4 separate regions of the Homo sapiens genome follow, and regions 1, 2 and 3 are each reported to be linked to region 4. The links are microRNA targets in miRTarBase. Many come from high-throughput screens and were not tested one by one. Region 4 holds a microRNA gene; each other region holds the end of a gene's coding sequence.

Region 1 (3,000 bases), not on the chromosome of region 4:
AACAATTAAAATGCCTTATATTTTCTCTGCTTGAAAAAAATTAATTTTCTCACCTGACCTTCCATTTCTGCTTTAAAAATGTTTGTCAATGAGAAAAGTCCAATTTAAAAGCCCAACTATCTATGATGACTCAAATTAAAATACACAAATTCTCTGTCAATTCTTTCAAATTTACTTTGAATTATTTGACACTTTAAAAGCCTTTCATAGACTTGATACATACAGGCCAGTTAACTTACTTTCAGTGTTGGTATCTTTATTTTTATCCTTCAGATATAAAGAGAATGTTATGAAATTATCAATAATTCAACATGATCAACCAGTAAAGCCCCTGCATCGAGCAGTCTTCTGGATTGAATTTGTGATGTGCCACAAAGGAGCCAAACACCTTCGAGTTGCAGCCCGTGACCTCACCTGGTTCCAGTACCACTCTTTGGATGTGATTGGGTTTCTGCTGGCCTGTGTGGCAACTGTGATATTTGTCGTCACAAAGTTTTGTCTGTTTTGTTTCTGGAAGTTTGCTAGAAAAGGGAAGAAGGGAAAAAGAGATTAGTTATGTCTGACATTTGAAGCTGGAAAACCAGATAGATGGGTTGACATCAGTTTATTCCAGCAAGAAAGAAAAGATTGTTATGCAAGATTTCTTTCTTCCTGTGACAAAAAAAAAAACTTTTCAAAATCTACCTTGTCAAGTAAAAATTTGTTTTTCAGAGATTTACCACCCAGGTAATGGTTAGAAATATTCTGTGGCAATGAAGAAAACACTAGGGAAAATAAAAAATAATATAAAGCCATATGAGCTCATATTGAAATTTGTTGCACTTATATTGAGATTTGTTGTTTGAATTCACAAGTTACATAAAAATATTACTCAGTTTAACTACATTTCACACATTTTATATAAACACAAGAACATTAAGAAGTCTACTGACAGTATCAGTAGTGTTTTGCACATACTCAGAATAATTTGGCTTCATTTTGAACAGGATTCGGTTGTTTTAACTGTTGCTAAAGAAACTATTACATAGTTAAATTGTATAAAAAGTCTCTCTCTTCCTTTTGATATCTTGAGATAAGTAGTATTGCTTTACTTTTACACTGCATGCAGCTTCATTGTCACATTTTTTGCTAAAATTGATGGCCAAATGTTTACTGTTTTAAGAGCATAAGTCATTTCTCAGTGGAAATTATGTGAAATTAGAAATATAGCCACTGTTACCTGCTTCCTACTGTAAAATTGAACTGTTTTGCCACATCTTTGGTTTCATGAGCAAATTCTATTTTTTCCAGATATTTAAAGATATTTTTCTCGTTGATTTTATTCTGATATTTTTAATTACTTCAATAGTTATTTGGGAACAGGTGGTGTTTGATTAGATGCATACGTTTTTTAGTGGTAATTTCTGAGGTTACGTGGCACATATCATGTGAGAAGTGTACCTTGCACTGAATGTATACTCTTTATCCCTCACCCCCTCCCACACTCCCATCTGAATCCTTAGAGCCCATTACATCATCTTTATGCTTTTGCATCCTTATAGCTTAGATCCCACTTAGAAGTGACAATTGACGATGTTCAGTTTTCTATTCCTGAATTTCTTCACTTAGAATAATGCTCTCCCACTTCATGCAAGTTGCTGTTAATGCCATTAGTTTGTTTCTTTTTACAGCTTAGTAGTATTCCATGGTATATATATATATATATATATATATATATATATATAGTGTATATGCGTGTGTATACGTGTGTGTGTGTGTGTGTTTGTGTGTGTTTGTATCAGGGGAACCCACCTTCAATATTTCAATGTAGGTTCTTCCCATTTTCCATAAGTGTTGGCCAGCTGAGAAATAAAGAGAAAGAGTACAAAAAGAGGAATTTTACAGCTGGGCTGCCGGGGGTGACATCACATATTGGTAGGACCATGATGCCCACCTGAGCCTCAAACCAGCAGGTTTTCTATTAAGGGTTTCAAAAGGTGGGGTGGGGAGTTGTGTAGGAACAGGGAGTAGGTACAACGATCACATGCTTCAAAGGACAAAAGGCAGAACAAAGATCACATGCTTCTGAGGGAACAGGACAAAGGGCAAAGCAGAACTACTGATAAGGGTCTATGTTCAGTGGTGCATGTATTGTGTTGATAAATATCTTAAACAACAGAAAACAGGGTTCGAGAGCAGAGAACTGGTCTGACCACAAATTTACCAGGGTGGAGATTTTCCCCACCCTAATAAGCCTGAGGGTATTGCAGGAGACCAGGACATACCTCAGTCCTTATCTCAACCACGTAAGACAGACATTCTCAGAGTGGCTGTTTATAGACCTCCCCCCAGGAATGCATTCCTTTCCCAGATTACTAATATTAATATTCCTTGCTAGGCTAAGAATTTAGCGATATCTTCCCTACTTGCACGTCCATTTATAGGCTCTCTGAAAGAAGAAAAAATGGCTCTTTTTGCCCCACCTCACAGGCAGTCAGACCTTATGGTTGTCTTCCCTTGTCCCCTAAATGTTGTTGTTATTCTGTTCTTTTTCAAGGTGCACTGATTTCTTATTGTTCAAACACACATGTTTTACAAGCACTTTGTACAGTTAACACAATTATCACAGTGGCCCTGAGGTGATGTACATCCTCAGGTTATGAAGATAACAGCATTAAGATATTAAAGTAAGACAGGCATAAGAAATTCTAAAGGTATTATTTGGGAACTGATAAATGTCCATATTAAAGTGAAATCTTCACAATTTATGTTCCTCTGCCTCAGCTCCACCCAGTCCCTCCATTCGGGATCCCTGACTTCCTGCAACATCTGTGTGTGTGTGTTTGTATGTATACCACATTTTCTTTATCCACTTATTGGTTGGTTGATGGGCATTTAGGCTTGTTCCATTCTTTTTCTTTTTTAATTGCGAATAGTACTGTTGCAAACATGTATGTGTGTGGGTCTTTTTCATATAAAAATTTTCTTTCCTCCGGGAAGATACACAGTAGTGCGATAGGT
Region 2 (3,270 bases), not on the chromosome of region 4:
CACTATGGCCCTGGCTCAAACCATCCTCCCGTCTCAGCCTCCCAAGTAGCTGGGATCATAGGCACATACCACACTGAGCTATTTTTGGTAGAGATGGGATCTCACTATGTTGCCCAGGCTGGTCTTGAACTCCTGGGCTCAAGTGATCCTCCCACCTAGGCCTCCTAAAGTGCTGGGATTACAGGTGTCAGCTATCGTGTCCAGCCTGAGATATTTCTTATGAGTAATGTGGATGGTACGTGAGTCCATAGAGTAAGGCATTTATTGTAAACCTCCAGGGAGTTTCTGAAAATAGTATCTTCTCTTCAAACCTAGGATGAAGCTGGAGGCAGATTCGTCGCTTTCTCTGGAGAAGGACAGTCATTGCGTAAAAAGGGAAGAAAGCCCTAAGTGAGGACTGTTGGCTGATTGGAAAATAATAAAAGAATCATTTGCAACATCTTGGCTTTTAGTTACTGGCACTGACAGGGACGAGCCTCATCAGAGAATACTCTGTTACTTAAGATTTATTTAGAGTTACCTAAGAATTATTAAGTTTGACTTGGAAGTGGAGCAGCAGGACTTTGTAGTTGTATGCTTGATTTGGGGAAAGACAAAGAGCTGTCCCTGAGGGCCTGTAGATAGCTGCCTCCTCACCTCTTCACGCTTTCAGCTTGAGGGGAGCTCCCACTGCCTCAGCAGGAGCAATTCTGCATCCCTAATTCTGTCAAAACCTATGAAGGTGACTAAATTGTCTAACATGAAGTGTTCTTTCTTTTTCTTCATTTATCCTTTCTTTTCCTACATCAATTGCATAGGTGTCAGTCTTTGGCCTAAAAAAAGGCTTTAAATAGACATGTGTTCTATAAGTAGTGGCTGTCCCACTACTGTGGCTGCAATTTAAGTATTTGACAAAGAATGTTTCTATTTTTATTTTACATATTTTTTTCAAAAACACCACTCAGAAGAACCTGATCTGAATGAGTTTGCACTTTTATTCTCATTTCATATGGACATAACTGGCTCCTTAGTGAACCTGTTCATAGTGAAACAACTCCATGGAGAAGCAAACATGTGAATGTTAGAATGAACAAATGCTAAAGAGATGTTCCTCTCCTTCTTCCCTACTCCCCAACTCCCAATTTTAATTTATTAAATCATCCAAGCTTCTGCTGGCCTGTATTTTTTATCAGTATTTATTTGGTCTTAGATCTTCACTTTCTATAACGTGAGATCTTTTGACATGCTAATCTGATTATTTTAAATTTGTTCCCATGAGCCACTGTGCCTGGCCCCATTGGGAATAATTCTAAGCCAAGAATTTCAAGTAAAAACAGGCAATAACTAAAGCCTAAATCTAAATGTTTGATTAGGTACTAACACAGACTGGTGGTTGGGCCTCTGACCATAACTGAAGGCCTGTTGGCAGGTGCTCCGTGTTCCATCTCACCATTAGAAAAGTGTCCCTCTGGGGCTTCTCCTGGAGAAAGTAGGAAGAAACAAGGCTGCCTGATCCCTAGGTGGCAATGGCTAAGCCCAGCAGGGTCCCCCATGAGCCAGGGCTAACCCTGCTTCCAGACATGGGGGTCCTGCCCTGGTCAGGGCCCCTCCAACACTCCAGAGAGGAGAGAATGGTGGCCCCAGGGTCTATCCACGTCTTCAGTGAAGAGTGTCTATGAGTGTCATGATGTTCAGTACTTGGCCTGTGGCACAAACCATCATCACTGGAAATGGGCGTGGTTTTGGAAGGCATGAGCACTGTGGGGACTTACCTGAGCCTCCACTGACAAAGTCTCAGTTTTACTAGCAGAGGGAGAAACCCTTGGTGGGTAGACAGCCTTCATTTGCAGGATCACATCAGCTAACAGACTGTCACTTTATGCATAATGAAGAATGTTACAGTACCTCTGGCTCTGGGTTTTTGTCTTCACTAAGCAACACCTGCTGTGTATGCAGTGAAACGCCTGGTCCTTTGCTGGAGGCACACTCCCCTGCCTGGACCAGGATGGATTCCATTGCAGAGCCTTTTAATGACACAGTGGGGCCAGTTGGAGCACTGATCCTGGTCATTACTCCTGCACCCTGGCCTGCAGCCTTCCTCTCAGTGTCTTATTTGGGCTTGGTCCTTGAGCCGGCTGCCTCAACAGCAGGACCCCTGGTAAAACTGCAGCTTTCTGATCCACCTCCAGGGAGTCTGTCCCAGTGTCATTCCTGGGACTGGCCCAGCAGTCCCAGGATTTGTATCAGTGGATACTGAGGATTTGTTATCAGTGAAGTGGGAGAACCGCAGCATAGGTACTGCAGGGCGTTTCTGCAAGCCCACCAGCCTCCTCTTTACTTGCCTTTGTTGCCTCTTGTGCATTGCTCCTTTTTATAAACGTCCCAGCCAGGCACTGGCGCTCCGCCTATAATCCTAGCACTTTGGGAGGCCAAAGTGAGAGGGTCGCTTGAGGCCAAACTAGCCTGGGTAACTTAGCAAGACCCCATCTTTACAAAAAAAAAAAAAAAAAATTAAAAATTAGCCTGGTGAGGCTGTGCATGCTTTTGGTCCCAGCTGTTCGGAGTCCAGGAGTTTGAGGTTGCAGTAAGCCATGAACACGCCACGCCACTGCACTAAGCCTGGGTGACACAGCAAGACCCTGTCTCGAAAAATGAATAAGGTAAATGTTACATGTCTCCCGCACCCTTAGAATAGAACTACAGACATCCAAGCCACTCCTACCCCGCTCACCCCTGCTACACACCGCCTCCATACCTTTGACCGGCCTATGGCTGTACTCGGATTGCATTCTCAGCCTCCACTTCAAGCCTGCGTTCCCTGGGGAGGTCATTCAACCCTAGATCCACCATATGTCATGCCCAACCAATCTCAGTTACTTTGCGAGTTCACCTCCATCCTGAGTGGACGCTCAAGCAAGACTGCTGGAGCTGCAGATCTGGGAGGTTCGCTGCACCACCTTGATGCTCAGTATGTACTTTTGAAAATATACCGGATTGTTGAGATTTGAGAAAATCTCATAAAGCTGCTGAAAAGAACTGGCCAGAGCCGTGTGATTTGAGAGGCGGCTGACGTAAGGTAGCTGCGCGGCCCAGGATGCCCGCCTGGCCCGGGGTGAATGGCGCTGTCGTCGCGGTGGTCGCGTAGGCTTCGCGCCAGGTCTCGCCCCGGATTTACCCTGCGACCCCGGCCCTCCGCGCGCGCCGCAGCCGCCCTCGGTTGCTATTGGTTGCTCGTCCTGTTTGTCGGCGCTTCTCGAAGAAGGGGGCGAAGACGTGATTGAATGTGTCGGT
Region 3 (3,000 bases), not on the chromosome of region 4:
GACCATACATTCTGTTTAAAATGTTGCATGACTTAGGGAACAAATGTAACTTGAGAGACTATGGAATGATTTGCTCTAAAACATGGACAGTAAGCATTTTAGTGTAGGAGGAGGTATTTTTTGAGTTTATGAATGCTGTTTTATAATCTCTACTCATAGTTTTAAAGCAGTGATTCAAAAGAGTATATATCATTTAATGAATGTTTTTGGTTTTCTAGAATTCTTTGCTGAACTGGATAAAGTAATGGGCCCTCTCATCTTTAATGCAAGCATCATGACAGATCTAGTTCGTTATACCCGGCAGGGACTGCACTGGCTTCGCCAGGATGCCAAGTTGATATCTTGAACTGAACACATTCTCGTTGCCTCTGATTTTCTCCACAACACTGTGTCACATCACGAAGGAAAACTGCCATAACATACCACCTAGTCGACACTAAGAATGAGGAATAGTTTTCTCCTCGTTGGTTCATGTGTTGTTGTTTTTGATAATCCAAAGCGATCATGTCAGTTGGCCCTTTAATATTTCCAATGTGAAAGATTATTTAAATGCTTTTAAATCTGCAGCACATTGATAAGATGGTTTCCGTGAGCTATGATAAGATTGAAATTCCAGTTGCAATTCATAACTAATGAATTGAAATTTTATTTATTTTAATTTTTTTAAGTTCCCAGATTGGGGCTAGTTTAAGACTTAGTTATTTCTGCCTATAAATTTACTCTGTTGAATATTTAGCATAAATTTAATGTAGACATTTTTATTTATATACCTTGGGAGCTTTATTACCTAATATCTTTTTGTGGTAGCTGTTCTAAGAGTAAGAATTGGTTCGTCTAAAATAAGGACATATTCTTTCTACACCTGCTACCTGACCTGATATTTGAAATCTTAACTCCAATTTTATTATTGTGGAATTTACAGTTAGTATTAAGGATATTCTTCTACACATGAAAAAATCACTTAAATATGAGAAAATGGCATTCTACATGTATGTACTATGAAATGTGTCTGATTTGGTATGCATTATTTCAAAAACTGTGAATGTGTGTTAATAACACTACAGCAATCACACAGTGACTATAGCTTGCATTTAATGCATTACAAAAGAGGGAGGACAAACTTTCTAGAAGAAGCATTTCATGTTGAAGGGTTTCATAAAAGGACAATCCTGAACGTTACGGATTTTATTAAAACCATATGTTATTTTTTGTTGCTAATCATTTGACACTTAATCGAAACAGAATAAGTTACTGTGGAAAAAAGGATGATCCAACTCCTGAGGATTGCCGCCTGTGTGTCTTTAATTGATTATCTTTGATAGTTAGAGTTATTTTTCAGATTTTTCCCCCTCATACTGGATTGTGATGCTCTGATATGAGCATGCAATGACTGATACAGAAATAGGCTGGAGCTTCGGTGTGTGCTTTTGCTATACAGCTTACAGTTCTAATGCCTGATGTAGAGATGATGAATTTCTCCTTTTTAAACCTATCTTCTGTTTACTCCTTTTGCATTATGAAGGCCCTCTTCAATGATGTATGTTTCTGATGGAATCAGAAAATTTCACACTAGAAAAGTGTACCTAACTTGATTCAGTGTGAGCTCTTGGGACAGGGAGTGGAGCCAGGGGTAGAGCTTAAAGAAGCTGGCTCTGTAAGAGTTGTATATCAAAGTACCTTTTGCTACAAGGTGCATATAGAAGTCTAAGATAAGAAATGTACCCTCTATACTTTATTTTTCATGCCCCTATCATGTTTGGTGTGCCTTAAATCTTACCTTTAAATGAAGACTCTATGGATTGTTTACAAATGAAGTTTTACACTAGGACCAGATCGTCCATACATGATTGGTCTTCTACAATAATAATGTTCAATTCTTTCATTTTAAATCTTTCTTTAGGGTCATATAAAGATTAGTTCTTTCAGAAAAGCTATTGCTTTGGTACATGACTTAGTCTAACCAGTTGGGTAATGCTGCTTTGAAAAATAGTTTGTCCCTCTCCCCATTCCAAAAATGAATCCATTCAGTCAGAAAAAAAGATTATCCTACTATTTGTAGATGATTGCTAAGGCTTGAAATAGGAAAGGGGAAAGAAGGGATAGAAAAGTTTCAAGTCCAGTAGTGCAGTGAATCCTTTGTGTTTGAGACTTTTTTACACTTATTTCTGAAGTTAGTGAACTTTCATTGTCCCTGTGGCCTCATATTTATAGAGCTTCTTAACTGTTTTGTACCTCAGATTGTTTTTAGATGTCATTGAAGATTGAGATGTACAAATTATGTTGAATTTAACCTGTTTCTCTTGGAGAAATTGCCTCTGATATCTTTCTAACTTAATCTTAGTGTGTTCTAGGAACAGTTTTCCATAAGAGGACAACTTCTCAATGATCATGATAGTTATTTAGTAAGAAATAATGGTTGTTAATCAAATACATGTTATGTCTTGTCCTTCTCTGATTTTTCTGACTTGGATTCCTTAATTTGCAGTGATGTCTTAGAAATGGAAAAAGTATCCTCTGGGCTTTCAGACTTTCAGCAACAACAGCCAGTGGGATACCTCTGAGTTCTTGTGTTCTAGTCTCTTGTATGTCCTGAAAGGCAGCAGGAGCATTTTTGGGGTCACACTGATATTTTGTTAAAGCAGAGTTTCCTGCATGGTTTATGGTGCTGCTCTAATATTTTCTCTTTAAAACTGTGTCAATTTTTGGAGAATGAATTTTTCAACCTTTTCATTGTGGAGGATTTTTCCCACAAGGTAGTAATGGGCAATGGATCAAAATCCTATCATAAATGATTGAATTTTCAATGTCATAGTGTGTGGAAATACTACTCCCTTTCCTCCATGTCTATCTTCTTAGATGTTCTGTCTTTGTCATCATCTGCTCCAGCACATACTTTGGACTCCTTTACAGGTGACCTTCCCCCCTCCCTCCTCAATAGGTGTCCTCAGTGTTTTCTAAGCATTTAAAACTGAATTTGACAAGTGGCTAAAAACTTAGTCT
Region 4 (3,270 bases):
TAAGGGGCCTGGAGGCTGGAGGCCCAGCTTTGCCCCTGCCTGGCTGTGAGTGTGGCCTATTTTCTTGAACTTCTCTAAGCCTCAGTTTCTTTACTTGTAAAATGAGGATGTTAATGGTACCATGAATAGTTAGTGAAAGGTCTAGTAACAGGAATCTTGGGAAAGTGACTTAAATTCTCTGAGCCTCACTTTCTTTATCATCTGCAAAATAAGGTAAAAAATACCCCTGTTACATGCATTGTTGTAAGGATGAATGAAATAATGTATGCAATCACTTAGCATATACCTGGTTCACAGTAAATCATCAGTAAATGCTAGCTGCTGTTGTGGCGACCGTTGGAATGCAATTACATTTTTAAAGATACATGTTGGATTGAAATTGTTTGCATCATTGAATGGTTCAATACATGGAGCAGGTGTCTCACTAGAGGAACAAGAAAGCCATGCAAACTCACCAGGTAGTACCACGTTGGAAATCAGATTGCTTTTATTTATTTATTTGATAGTTAATGATAGGGAGAGGGGTGATAGAACAAATGGGTATTATCTTTTCTTCTTTCCTATAATTAATTAAAATGAAATTATGGACCTGTACAATTTCAATAGATATGGATGGATAGGATAATATTATTAATAATAGTTTTTCCAACTTAAGACCAGTTTTTTCAACTCACTGGTGCCCTAACGTTTCTGATTTTGCTATCAATCGTGAAGAGGAGTTTTTAAATTATATGGTTAAAGAGAGAATGACTTTTGCTGAAGCATCTTATTTTAAACAAAGTAATATTGAGCTTATTGATAAAATAAAGGTCAGCCCAAGAGTGTGTGGGAATAAGGTACATTTTGAAAGAAAAGAGAATGAGGCTTTAAAAAAAGTTGTTTTCTTTCTTTTTGTTACAGCTAAAAATTTCCAATCACCATTCACTTCAAATATACCACCTTGATTTTACTTTTTTTACTTTGCTTTAGGTAATTTTTATATGAATATTCTCAATAAATAATTTTCGTGTAAGCATTTATTATTTTGAGCATTACAGTTTGGACCCCAAAATGGAGTACTGTGAATTTTTTGAGAGATGCTAGAAGAACAGAAGAAACAGTAAACTTTTAAGGCAAGACATCTTTCTCCTCCCACTCTAGCAGCAAGGAGAAGAGGACATTTGCTCTTTAAGAGCCTTTTAAAAGTCACGTGGAAAGGCAAGCACTCCAAGGATTTTTTGATTCCTTTTGGCTTTGGCCAAGAAAATGAAATTATTGAGAACAGCCAGACTTTCATAAGATATTGCTGTTGGAGGGACTTTTTGGTGGGTTAAATATTATAAAATCATTGTTTTCTGGTCAATACAGAGCAGGGAGAAAATAAAAATAATTGTTGGATAGGAGCATTTTGGTGGGTTTTGCACAGACTTGCATCTTGTGTCAGAATGTGACATCAAAGGCTCAGTTTGATGGGGTCACTTTTCTAACGTGACCAGATGATGTGTTAAGGCAAAAGCAAAGTATTTTCTCCCCCTCAGGTTTTTGGAAATAGACCAAACACATAGTTCTCAAAACCACCTTCCTTTAACCCCAACCTTTGATAAAGTGCAGGTCAACTAGCTTGCCCTAATCACTTCTAAACTCATCAGTGGAGTATCTTTCCATGTTTAAGTCTCCTTCTGGCTGCTTCTCTGAATTCTCATTACGGAGCAAGTGTAGGAAGACCCAGGAATGCCGGAATCATCCAGTCACTGCATGGGTTCACTTCATCCATATCTTCTTTTTTTCAGAATACTCTTTATTCCTGTCTTATTTCAAATCCTGGTGTCATCAGGGTGATGAAGGGCACTTCTTAGACACTCGACAACATGGTGGAGGTGAAGATCTGTTGTAAAATCTGAGGGATATCCTTGGTATCCATGGCAACGAAAGACCGACCAGCTGGTAAAGTTCTCTGAAGCCTGCCAGGATGGAAAGGGAAAGGAAGTTACCACTGTAAATGGGGCTCCCTTCCACCTCCTGCCCTGGCAAACCACAGCCCCCTAATGGTTTCTTAGGAAAGGAAGTTTTTACTTTCTAATACCTTGCTCTCTGCCTACCATTGAATTAGTCGTCATTAAACAATGAAAGGCTTGGAAGAGCAACAAGGAAAGACACAGCAAAAGCAGGGAACTGAAAGAAAGGTCTTTTCAGTGAGAAAGTCAGTGAATTTGAAAAGAAAAAATTTTCTTCCTTTCTTTACTGCCATTTCTTGGTATTTCATATTCTTTTGGTATAACAGAGCCATAGGGATTCATATGGAATCAGCTCACCTCCCGGGTCTAGCAAATATGTTGACCTTACACTGTATTTCGAAGTGCTTTTCCTTCCTTAGAAAACAGGCCTCTAAAAACGCTGCGCAGCCAAACCCTGAGTGGTTCTTTCTCTCTTTCTTTGCCTCTCTCTCTTTTTTTTGGTCCACATCACACAATGTGAAATGCGATCTGGATTGTCCAATTACTGCTTCAATGACACTGAGGTTATACAGGCTTATGAAATTTTTTCCAACTCATTTTTAAGTGAATTTTAAAAAACTTATAATGGGTTTTGATTTGAATTATCCTTAAAAATAACATGTCATTGAAGTTACGATACTTTTTTAAATACTAATTTATAATTTGGAACAAAAGGCCATTTTGAAGGCAACAAAACTGTAAGACACAGTTCTCTTCAAAAGAACGCCTCCTTTCACTGTGCCAGTGAAGTCTGGCTTTGGAATGACATTTAATAAAATTCAACCATCCTGTGTAGTATCGTATATTTGGCATGCCTGGTAAGCCAGCTAATTCTGCAACATATCTTTTGCCAGTGGATGTTGGACCATTTCCCTAGGAAACCACAAGGGTATTATTGTGCTTTCTTAAGTATTCAAACAGGATCTGTTCACTAGAAAGACAAAATAGCCATTTCATCTCAACTAGTATTTGTTGAGCTTGTTGTCTGCCTAATACTGGGCTGATGCTGAGGAAAACCTGGGTGGAAAAGGCATAGTTTGTGTTTGAGGATGTGGAGGTTCTAAAAGATGCAAAGTGCTAACTTGTAAAAACTAAGAAGAATGAAAAGTCATGTCATAAAATGACTGTAACTACATGATATTAAGTCTGTTCTCAACCTCGCTCTGCAACCTTACAGCAAGGCAAAGGGAATAGAAAGAGAAAAAGCTGCTAGCATTTTGGATATTAAAACATTTCCAGTCACAGAGTATGAAAAGTAAAAGGGGTGGAATAACAAAAACGTAGGCCCTTTGTGCTT

Evidence for each region. Region 4 holds the annotated microRNA hsa-miR-5006-3p (UUUCCCUUUCCAUCCUGGCAG, at 1,941-1,961, opposite strand). A microRNA usually pairs through its seed, bases 2 to 8, with sites in the 3' UTR of a target mRNA and lowers its output. Matches are read on the target gene's strand: a 7mer-m8 pairs with bases 2 to 8, a 7mer-A1 pairs with bases 2 to 7 and ends in A, and an 8mer does both.
Region 1: miRTarBase lists UGT2B28 as a target of hsa-miR-5006-3p. Seed matches in the 3' UTR shown: 7mer-A1 at 767-773.
Region 2: the mRNA of UFD1 is a reported target of hsa-miR-5006-3p. The part of its 3' UTR that is shown has no 7-base or 8-base seed match.
Region 3: the mRNA of AFF4 is a reported target of hsa-miR-5006-3p. The part of its 3' UTR that is shown has no 7-base or 8-base seed match.

Annotation. Positions count from the first base shown.
Region 1 is chr4:69,294,257-69,297,256 of GRCh38, forward strand. It overlaps UGT2B28 (UDP glucuronosyltransferase family 2 member B28), which reads left to right. Exons shown (of 6, transcript NM_053039.2): 6 at 274-794. The coding sequence ends at 553. Among named protein-coding and RNA genes, the nearest start is that of UGT2B28, 15 kb to the left of the region's middle.
Region 2 is chr22:19,447,790-19,451,059 of GRCh38, reverse strand. UFD1 (ubiquitin recognition factor in ER associated degradation 1) reads left to right here. Exons shown (of 12, transcript NM_005659.7): 12 at 316-1,149. The coding sequence ends at 390. UFD1-AS1 (UFD1 antisense RNA 1) reads right to left here. Exons shown (of 2, transcript NR_186687.1): 1 at 2,735-3,270. Among named protein-coding and RNA genes, the nearest start is that of C22orf39, 1.7 kb to the right of the region's middle. RefSeq lists an enhancer at 3,251-3,270.
Region 3 is chr5:132,878,405-132,881,404 of GRCh38, reverse strand. AFF4 (ALF transcription elongation factor 4) reads left to right here. Exons shown (of 21, transcript NM_014423.4): 21 at 219-3,000. The coding sequence ends at 346. Among named protein-coding and RNA genes, the nearest start is that of LEAP2, 6.2 kb to the right of the region's middle.
Region 4 is chr13:41,566,366-41,569,635 of GRCh38, forward strand. It overlaps MIR5006 (microRNA 5006), which reads right to left and starts at 2,030; the gene lies at 1,921-2,030. It overlaps VWA8 (von Willebrand factor A domain containing 8), which reads right to left. Exons shown (of 45, transcript NM_015058.2): 45 at 470-1,940. The coding sequence ends at 1,832.